Linked DNA regions of Homo sapiens. The protein of the gene in region 3 interacts with the protein of the main gene of each other region in a biochemical or structural test. Each region holds a gene or a part of one and is shown on either strand. Other genes may lie near its edges.

Region 1 (3,727 bases), on a different chromosome or scaffold from region 3:
GTCCTGCCCAGCGACGGCTTCCAGGTGGACTTGGAAGCCAACTGCCTGGACGACAGCATCTACCAGCACCTGCTCTACGTCCGCCACTTTCTGTGGGGTCTGCGGAGCAGAGCCAGCCCCGGCAGCCCTGGCAGGCCTGGCAGTGGGGCCTCCCAGCCAGTGTGCCCCGAGGTACCCGGGGAGGGGGCCCCCCAGCCAGCGTGCCCCGAGGTGCCCGGGGAGGGGACCCAGCCAGCGTGCCCCGAGGTGCCCGGGGAGGGGGCCACCCAGCCAGCGTGCCCCGAGGTGCCCGGGGAGGGGGCCCAGCCAGTGTGCCCCGAGGTGCCCGGGGAGGGGGCCACCCAGCCAGCGTGCCCCGAGGTGCCCGGGGAGGGGACCCAGCCAGCGTGCCCTGAGGTGCCCGGGGAGGGGGCCACCCAGCCAGCGTGCCCCGAGGTGCCCGGGGAGGGGGCCCCCCAGCCAGCGTGCCCTGAGGTGCCCGGGGAGGGGGCCCAGCCAGTGTGCCCCGAGGTACCCGGGGAGGGGGCCCCCCAGCCAGCGTGCCCCGAGGTGCCCGGGGAGGGGACCCAGCCAGAGTGCCCCGAGGTACCCGGGGAGGGGGCCCCCCAGCCAGCGTGCCCCGAGGTGCCCGGGGAGGGGACCCAGCCAGCGTGCCCCGAGGTACCCGGGGAGGGGGCCCCCCAGCCAGCGTGCCCTGAGGTGCCCGGGGAGGGGGCCCAGCCAGAGTGCCCCGAGGTACCCGGGGAGGGGGCCCCCCAGCCAGCGTGCCCCGAGGTGCCCGGGGAGGGGACCCAGCCAGCATTCCCCGAGGTGCCCGGGGAGGGGGCCCCCCAGCCAGAGTGCCCCGAGGTGCCCGGGGAGGGGGTCCAGCCAGCATTCCCCGAGGTGCCCGGGGAGGGGGTCCAGCCAGCATGACCCGAGGTGTCTGGGGAGGGGGCCCCCCAGCCAGCGTGCCCCGAGGTGCCCGGGGAGGGGGCCCAGCCAGCGTGCCCCGAGGTGCCTGGGGAGGGGACCCAGCCAGCGTGCCCCGAGGTACCCGGGGAGGGGGCCCCCCAGCCAGAGTGCCCCGAGGTGCCCGGGGAGGGGGTCCAGCCAGCATGCCCCGAGGTACCCGGGGAGGGGGCCCCCCAGCTAGAGTGCCCCGAGGTGCCCGGGGAGGGGGTCCAGCCAGCATTCCCTGAGGTGCCCAGAGAGGGGGTCCATCCAGCATGCCCCGAGGTACCTGGGGAGGGGGCCCCCCAGCCAGCGTGCCCCGAGGTGCCCGGGGAGGGGGCCCAGCCAGCGTGCCCCGAGGTGCCCGGGGAGGGGGCCCAGCCAGCGTGCCCCGAGGTACCCGGGGAGGGGGCCCCCCAGCCAGCGTGCCCCGAGGTACCCGGGGAGGGGGCCCAGCCAGCATGCCCCGAGGTACCTGGGGAGGGGGCCCCCCAGCCAGCGTGCCCCGAGGTGCCCGGGAGGACAGGAGAAGGGTTGGAAGCTGGGCTGGGGGCAGCAGGCGGGAGCTCTGGGAACCCCGGGAGTCCTGGCCCAGCGCAGGCTGTGCTCCGGATGGCGGGGAAGCCCCTTTGCCTCTTGCGCGTCTCAAGCTGCACAGGCTGCGGGAGTCCTTTGCTGACCTCTGCCCCGCGGCCTGGCGGCCCTTCTGCTGCAGGCTGCCCAGTTGCCCGAGTGCTGTGTCCACCTGGCCACTCCTCTACCTGAGCTGTCACCCTTCCTCTCCCTAGGGTATGCACCACGTGGTCCTTGACGGGCACCTGGAGGCCCCGAGCTGCCCCCTGGCTCCCAGGGACCCTGGCCCAGCAGCCCGGGAAGTGGCCCCGGAGCGTACTCTTCCCTTGAGGGGGGCTCCCTGGGCACAGGCCCCCCCTGGAAGGCAACCCAGCCGTGGGGGCTCCCAGGCTGGCCCCCCGCACACGGACTCGTCCTGCTTGCTCACGCCTCCCAGCACTCCACTTGGCCCTGAGCCTGGGGACCCCGACTGGCCAGAGTCCGGCGGCCCCTGTGGAAAAGCGCTCCCAGAGAGGCAGAGGAACGGACTCAGCGGCCTCCGGGGTGCAGCTCCGGAAGGTGAGCCCTGCCTGGTGCTCAGGCGGGAACCCACCCCAGACCCCGCACAGCACCCTGATGGCCGGTCCCCTGGGATCGTTCCCCCCTTGGGTCCTAGGTTTCCTTACCTGCCCCACAGACACCTGCAACCTGAGACGGGGCCAGATGGAGAGGGCTCAGGGCTGCTCAGCCCCCAGCAGCTGGGCCACACGGTCGCTCAGTCGCTGACACGTCTTGGGCAGATACTCACTGTGATCTGGGAGGGAGAGAGTCTAGAAAGTGGCTCAGAGTCACTCCTGCACTGGGCAGAGGAAGGGATGGCTGAGCCAGTGGAGAGGATGTGCTGAGGGGGAACCCAGGGGTCTTCAGGGAGAAGGTGGAGCTGGAGTCCTCCAGGGCAGGGCCTGTGTGTGCCTGTGTGCTTGTGCGTGTGGATATGTGTGCTCACAGGTGCATGGGTGTGCTGGTGCGTGTGTGCATGGGTGTGTGCATCTGCATGGGTGTGTCTGCATGGTGTGCATTGTGTGTGCATCTCTGCATGGGTGTGTCTGCATGGTGTGCATTGTGTGTGCATCTGTGCATGGGTGTAAGTGCACGTGTGCATGGGCATGCTTGCACATGTGTGCATGGCTGTGAGTATATGTGTGCATGAGTGTGTGTGCGCAGCTGGCCTAGGCTGGGGAGGGCATTGAGGGTGAGGCAGCCCCAGCCGGCCCTGGCCTCCTGTGAGGGGCTTGGGTGTGCCTTGCAGGAGCGAAGTGTCCTGGGTGCGTGTGCAGAGTCAGAGTGTCCCCTGTGGCTTGGGGCCACCTGGCCAAGCTGGGTCCCAGGCAGGCCACTTGCTCAGGTGCACAGCTCATCTCTGACCTAAGTGCACCCACGGCAGGATCACCATTATGGAGAGGGCACCAGCTGGTGGCCCTCAGGGCAGGTGCTTGGGCTGGGCTGGGCTAGGGCCTGGGGCCCCGGTCTGGTCAGCGGTGGGAACCCTCAGGGTGCACATGGCCACATCTGGGTGTGGAGGGAGGAGGAGGAGGAGCAGAGATTGCTGAGGAGGTGGCACAGAACCGCGTGGGTCCCTGGAGCTGGAAAACAGCCGCCCCCAGAGGGGCGAGTGTCCTGGGACTGCCAGGGGCGGGGACTGAGGTGCTCCCTCAGGGAACATGGGGGTGTCGCCCATGGGCGGACCCCGACCCTAATGTCTGGGTTGCCGGTCACATTCTGCCTGAACAGCGTCTCCTGGGAGCCACAGGAGGCCATCCCATCCCTGACGCCCTACAGAGGCAGCCAGGCCAGGACATCCCATTCCTCGTCGTGATTCCTGGCGCCTCACTCCCACCCACCTTTCCTGGCCCCCACCCAGGAGACTCTGCAGCCCTTGCGGAGGAGTCCCCTCCAGCCCCGTCCAGCCGCAGCTCCAGCACCGAGGACTTCTGCTACGTCTTCACGGTGGAGCTGGAACGAGGCCCCTCCGGGCTGGGGATGGGCCTGATCGACGGGATGGTGAGTGGCCCAGGACCCTCGCCGCACCCCCATACTGGCTGCCTGGCCCCGCCTGTTCATGCAAGCCTGGCCGCAGCTTGCGTGGCCACGTGGCTACAGGAAGGCCTTCGGGGAGGAGAGTGGGGTTGGCCTCTGCAGCTGGGAGGGGAACCCAGCCTGTCCAACGGCCACGCCCCCTGGG
Region 2 (3,727 bases), on a different chromosome or scaffold from region 3:
TAAAAAGGTACCAGAAGCCCTCATAGTAGGGGTGGCACTTGAGTTCAGGCTTTGTAACATGAATAGATTTGGGAAAGTAGACAGAGCTGGGATAAGGAAGATCATTCCAGGAAGGTGGGAATCATGTGAACACAGTCAGGAGACACTGGCACAGTTTAATTGGCACATGATGTGTAGTACAAGAATTCGTTGGAAAGGTAGGTTGGAGAGAGGTGACAAGGGGACTTCTATGCAAGACTGATGAGTTTGAACTTGGCTTATCAGACAATGGGGAGTTGTTTTTTGAGCAGTATAAGGGAGAAGAACAAAAACCAGCCTATAATGTCTTGGGGGCTTTGCACATCTCAATTACTCCTAACAATTATGCAAGAAGAACTGCTGAAATTGAGGGCTTGGAGAAGATACAGTAATTATGTAAGGTCAAATAGTTGTTTAGTTCCAAAGCCCATGCTCATTCTGTTGCACCAGGAAGTGACTTGGTTAGGAATGTGCACCAAGATGGATCTGAAGGCAGATCTGTATCAGACAGAAGGACTGGGGAAGGGAAAGCAGTAGGTAAGGTGCTGTAATAGTTTAGGTAGAATTCTAGGCAGGAACTAATACAAACTGCATTCAGGGTAGAGGAAGTGGGATGTGTAAGGTATTATGGTAGCATCAGAGGACTTAGCAATCGTCTAGATATGGGGACTGGATGCTGGGGAAGAATCAGTTGCCAAGTGTTGGTGACTGGGATGATGTTGCTCCACTAACAGGTAACCAAGAGGAGGGGCTTTGGGATGGAGAATGGGCAGAGCTGATTTTTGGCTTGAATACATTACAGTTGAGAGATCTATGAGATATTTTGTTGGAGATACCCAGCAGCTAGCTGGAAAAGTGAAACAGGAACTTGTTAAAAAAAAAAAAAAAGGCAGCATCTGGTGAAGATACCAGAAGGCCAAAGCACATGGAGGCATGTATATACAAATATATTCAAAACCGAACACACCCAATTGCTACTAAAATGCCAGCCTGGGTTTCTTAAGGTCCAAAGTTTTGGGTTTTGTTCTTTATTCTTCCCCATCTTTTATGACAGCTTTTACATAAGACGCGTGGCTACAAGTATGCCCACTGACTTTCTGGGAACTTGCAGCCTTTTAATATGCTATTTTGCCAAAATCAAATGTCAGACGCTTTTAGTAACAGGATTATTTTCGTTAAGACCCCTTCATTGTTAATTGCTGGGTTAGTTTCTGGGGTGAGTTCTGAGCAGGAAACGAGCCTAGATAGTGTGCTTATAAGCTTCCTGGGATGCTGGTGGAAGGGGTGGTAGTTGTACTCAGCATGCCTTTTTTATCTGTTTCATCAGGGCTTTGGGCTCCAGCAGAAAATCTGTTTTATTTTTTTAGGGGACTTACTGATAATTTTATTTTTTGGGGTTGGGGGAGGGTAGGTCAAATCATCAAGGACATAGATTCTGGAAGTCCAGCAGAGGAGGCTGGCTTGAAGAACAATGATCTGGTAGTTGCTGTCAACGGCGAGTCTGTGGAAACCCTGGATCATGACAGTGTGGTAGAAATGATTAGAAAGGGTGGAGATCAGACTTCACTGTTGGTGGTAGACAAAGAGACGGACAACATGTACAGACTGGTAAGTAATACAAGGCCATATATTCATGCATTAAGGCTGGGCCCATTCACTCATGACCTCAACTTTTGCACTGAGTTAGGACTTTGTTCCTCAAACTGGAAGAGGCATAACAATCATCATTAAGGCTAAACTGAAGCTCAACTCAAATTGGTAGTGATAAGAGAATGCCAAATGATTGATAAATGAGTTTTAAGTCCTTGGTCTTAAGATTTTGAAAGAATTTGTGAATATAACTGCAGGCTTACTCTTGGTGATCTGAGAAAATCTATGGAGAATATAAGCCTGGAAATAAAATTGTTCCCAAAATAGGAAACAATTAGATTTTAAGCTTTAGGTCAGTTAAGTGCTATCAACTGCACATAAAAGCCTAGAAAGGATTATTAAACAACTTGTAAGCCCTTAGCAAATAAAAAAGAAACACAGATAGACCAAGACCAACCTGAATCAAACTAACTTTATTTTCTCTTAACAGCTCTTTATCATAACACCCACTACTGCATGTTTTAAGGTTTTTTTTTTTTTTTTTTTTTTTTTTTTTACTTTTAACACAAGAACTGAGGTTGTCTAGTTTAACAGATAACCTGGGGGGCCTTCTAAGTACCATCTGTCTTGCTAAGTGTTGATTGTAAAGATGAACAAGATAAATGTCCTCTGTGATATACAATGATAGTAGAATCTAAAATAAGCGGTACAGAGGGGGGAATATGATGGGTGGTGATATCTTAGGCCCTCCTCATAGATTAGGAAACCGAAGCTTAGAGAGACTAAGCACTTTGCTAAAGTCACGCAGCTTAGTAAAGACTGAAGGTGGTATCTGAACCCAAATTCTTGGACCCGTAATTCATTATACCATACTCCCCAGCACATTTTTTCAAGATAATCTTGTAAGCAGGATTAAACAATTAATTAGATTAATGGCTTTTTTTTTTTAGCTACTTGAACAATCATACCTAGAAAATACTTGATATCAACCTGAATATCAACTTGAATAGAAGTCTCTAATGGCATGCTACTTGTTCCTAACCGTTTATGTGCTTAAAGTTGAAAGGAGATATGGAAAATATATTAACATACTTAAAGTGGCACTAGATAATTCATTTGCTGGATGGTGTAATTAATACTCAAAATATTTAGTTAGGATAGAAAGAATGAAAACTAAAGAAATAAGAATAAATTTCAGATGTACTATACTAACCTAAAAGTAAATTGTATGAATACCACATGGTGAGACCTGATTTGAGGACTACAGAAAAAGACCAGAAACTTCATAGTCCAAGTGGTTGCCCCATCCAAATATGGTAATTTAAAAATTAACTGACAGACACTTGGCTTCTAGAGATGACCATCTTACTGTACTTACTTGGTCAGACCATACTTGGAATACCTGGTAATATAGTTACCACCTCTCTCTGTGCTTCAGTTTCCTTAGTTGTAAGAGAGGGGTAGTAGCTACAGCGAAGGGTGGCTATGAGGGTTGAATTGGAATATTCAGAGCATGTAGAATAATGCCTCACACATCTAAATGTTCTATTTGTTCAATCAATATTGTGTCCGGTTTCAAGAACTTCACTTTAAGAAGGCAATGACAAGGGTAACCAGGGAAGAGGTTTTGGAAGCCACCATGTGAGTATTTAGCTTGAGTAAGGCTTTGGAGAAGAGAGCATCTTCAAGAATTTGAAAGGCTATTACATGTAAGAAGGAGCACACTTTTTTTTTTTTTTTTTGAGACGTTGTCTTGCTCTGTCACCAGGCTGGAGTGCAGTGGTGCCATCTCAGCTCACTGCAATCTCCACCTCCCGGGTTCAAGCGATTCCCCTGCCTCAGCCTCCTGAGTAGCTGGAATTACAGGTGCGCACCACCATGCCCAGCTAATTTTTTGTATTTTAGTAGTTTTACCATGTTGGCCAGGATGGTCTCGATCTCCTGACCTTGTGATCCGCCCGCCTCGGCCTCCCAAAGTGCTGGGATTACAGGTATAAGCCAACACGCCCGGGCCACACATTTTTTTTAAGGTGTCCTATGGGGCACAACAGGACCAGAGAAGCCATAGGGAGCTAGCTTTTGGCTTAAGAACCAACTGAAGCTGCCAGAAATGATGAGT
Region 3 (3,500 bases):
GAAAAAAATTGAGTCTAAAAGTTTTAATTGTTCATGGCTTTTTATTGTTTAGTGTCTGATTAAAAACAGCAAGTATAGTCTTCAATGTGGAATCATTGTGTTGAATTACATTCGGTGAGGGAATTCACAGTTTTCATGTATAGCATAGGCCTGTATTCCTCAAAATGGTATATTTTTGTGGTTGTGGAAGCCAAATGATCAAAAGAAGCCAAAGAGTTGTGTTTTTTTTGTTTTTTGCTAAGCTTTTTAAAACATTATATTAAAACAAACATGGATATTATATTCATGATGTAGAAAGCAAAATTGGCATTATTTCAAAGATGAGACCAGAGACTTAACAGGAATTTTAGGCTTGCAACAGGCTGTTTAAAGCTGTATTCTCCAGACCTCCCAGGGCTGAGTACACTCTTTTGAGCAATTACAGATGCATCAGTGGAAAAGTTGGAGAAGTGGTGGTTGAGTTTAAAAAAGGTAAAATTAATGTACTCTGTTTCCCTTTTTTTCCTATTACCACAAGGCACAAAATATGACCATTTTCAGTCGAGGTCATGATAATTGTAGCATCTTAATTTTGTTTATTTGTTTGATCCATACACCTGCAGTCAGGATGAATTCCTTGAAAATAAATCTCATCCGATCTCATTCTCTCACTTCTTACCCTCATCAGTTTAAAACAATTTAATGACTTCTCATTGTTTTTAGGATAAAGGTCAAAGTCCTTAACATGGCCTATAAGACTCTTGAAGGTTTGGCCATTGCCTATGAGGTAAGCGTCATGCCCAGCACCAAGTATGCAGGCTGCCTCACCGTCCTTCCTGTTTGCCTACCACTGGACATTTGCACTTAATATGTTCCCTATCCCTCTTCACCTAGTTAAGTCTTACTCACCCTTCACGTCTTAGGCTTTTTCTCATCCACCTTAGGAAAGCCTTTCCAGATTTGTTAAATCACATCAAATCCTCAGTTATATGCTGTCCTAGTACCATGTATATCTCCTGTGTCCCATTCACCAGTTTTATTTTTATATTAATTTGGATGGTTATTTGATATCCAACTCCCCCACTAGATGAGTGCAGGGACCCCATCTATTTCTTGTACCAGTGTGTAAAAAAGTATCTGGTATGAAATAGGCACTTAGAAAATATTTGTTGAGAGAAGGAATAAATTAATTTATTCACAGATTACTGGTCTGTCAGCAAATCTGCTTTCCTAAATGACAATGCACGTAAAGTCCCTTATAATGCTCTAATGGATACTTCAGTGCCAACTTGTATATTGTGTGCCAGAATACAGTAGAAGTAGGGTTGCTTTATCCATTTCTCATAGTTGTAGTGCTCTAGCCAATTCAAAGATACGAATCATGGTTTAAACTTATTTTGTTACAAAATATTAATAATTTCAGGAAATTAATAACACTTTGGTGTTTATGCCATATTATAAATAGTATAAATATTACTTACTAATATCACTTAGTAAGACAACATGATAAGCAAATACTTATTAAAACATTAAAACACACTCCTTCTCCTAAGCATTTATTTCCCTTCATTCAAATTTTCTAATTGTTTCTTCATTTGGGTATTTTTTAAAGAACTCTATATATCTTAGAATGCATGATGGAGTGAAATTGATCAGATGTCTTAATTTTGTCCTCATAAAAATAAAAACAAAAAGCTCATATAAAAAATTAAAATGCATTATTCTGTTGTGAGGATATCCTTTATTTGTTAATTGGGACGATAAAATGGAAAAACAACCCTTGGGCTTAATGAAACCATTATCTTATTTATTATATTTAGTGTTCAATTTGCATTTTTATTAATAGGAATACAATTAAGGTATTTAAAGGTGCATCTTAAATCAGCATTTTCTTGTGTAATTTTTCACCGTTCCCTCTGATTTTGAAAAAAAGAAAACTTTAAAAACTAGATGTAAGTTTATCATTACTAATTTTTGAAGGGCACTTGTTAAGAACATACGTACAGAATTATTGCAAAGCATAGTTTGCTAAATACAGGTGCCTCAAGTGGATTTTCTATGAATTACATGCTGCTAGATAATCACTAGTAGGCAACTTACCAAAATTTTTCTAATAAAGCCTGCCTCCTCCCAATTTAGAATCATTAAAATACAAATCAGAGTAAGTGAAATTGTAAAGATCTTAATAGGCATGCCAGTTTGTTAACTCTTTATAAAACACCATCAGGCTTAAATGCTCTAGCTAGTACTGCAAAACAATGGATTGCAATTGTGCCCTGATTTGACTTGCAAACAACTATTCTACAAGATGGAATTTTTAAATTTTAAAGATGTATTTAATTTATTGTTTGATTTTAATTTAAATCACAATCATTAATTCTAATGGAAGTTTTCATTATCTTACTCTTGCAATTTCAGGAAAAAAGAGTTTGTTGCTATTTGCATAAATGCATTGAACTTTAAATTTTACTAAAGTGCAGTAATAACTGTTTTAGCTCTCTTTGTTCATCTGTTGACTATTTTACCACAACATAAAATTGTTTGAAAAATCAAAATTTATTTAGTAAACCAAAACTTGCACTGACACCAATATATGATAGTTTGTCATGATAAAAATATTGTTACATAACTAATATCAAGTATAGCATACATGACTCTTATGTGTTTACTTGGCATTAATGTTCTTAGAAATTAAGTAGGTTGGATGGTCTTTAGATACAGTGGTAGATAAGAAGAAACCTCATTAAATTAGTTGCGTTTTTAAATGTTGCTCAATATCTTTTTTTTTTTTTGGTGTTTGTTTGAACTTTTTATTTTGTTCCAGATACATCTGCTATTTTTAAAACAGGCTTGCAACATGTTTTCTTAAGTAATAGCTAGAACAAATCGATGGAAGCCTGGCTTAGATCCTAGATTTTCCTTTTTTCAACTTATTTACCAAAGATTGTAAAAGAATCTATTTTCTAGTAACTTGTTAGTTATACTTAGCAATGTAATTTATTAGTAAAAACCTTTAACAATGCTGGCATTAAATAATACAGCTGAATGATTAATGTTAACACTGGCTGAATTTTTGTTTTAATTTTGGTGTGTTTTTTATGTGTATATAGGAACTTATTTTGTATATTTTTTCAGAAAATTGATATTTTAATTTTGTGAAAATCATTTATATTTTGGTTTTCAAAACAGGCCATTGGGATATTAAATACATATAACAGAGAAAGTGTAGAGATTTTGCTCATGATGCTCAAAACAGACATATAGTAGTCCAGTGGCTAGTTTTCCTCCTGGCCTGCTGGAACTTACGTAGAAACCAAGTTTGATGTGGTATAGAGCTAGCATGATATGGCAGGGCTAGGTGCTCTTTCCCCATTTCCTATTATATTGGTGTCAGGATGAGCTTTGTGGCAGTCTCTGTTGGCACTAATGTTACATTAAATCAAAGGAACAAGGCTTCCTTATCCAGAAGCCTGCTCTGTTGCCTTCTAGCTGTCAGACCAGAGACTTTCAGTTTGATGTTG

The links.
Region 1: the proteins of CNKSR2 (region 3) and RADIL interact in a test that uses a peptide from one of them, tested with the Homo sapiens proteins (one large-scale study listed by IntAct).
Region 2: the proteins of CNKSR2 (region 3) and PDZK1 interact in a test that uses a peptide from one of them, tested with the Homo sapiens proteins (one large-scale study listed by IntAct).

What each region holds. Positions count from the first base shown.
Region 1 is NC_000007.14:4,799,990-4,803,716, reverse strand, and holds part of RADIL (ras-associating and dilute domain-containing protein), read left to right. Parts: coding exon 1-171; intron 172-1,721; coding exon 1,722-2,064; intron 2,065-3,406; coding exon 3,407-3,546; intron 3,547-3,727. UniProt on the Homo sapiens protein: Downstream effector of Rap required for cell adhesion and migration of neural crest precursors during development.
Region 2 is NC_000001.11:145,676,348-145,680,074, reverse strand, and holds part of PDZK1 (Na(+)/H(+) exchange regulatory cofactor NHE-RF3), read left to right. Parts: intron 1-1,429; coding exon 1,430-1,626; intron 1,627-3,727. UniProt on the Homo sapiens protein: A scaffold protein that connects plasma membrane proteins and regulatory components, regulating their surface expression in epithelial cells apical domains.
Region 3 is NC_000023.11:21,380,918-21,384,417, forward strand, and holds part of CNKSR2 (connector enhancer of kinase suppressor of ras 2), read left to right. Parts: intron 1-3,500.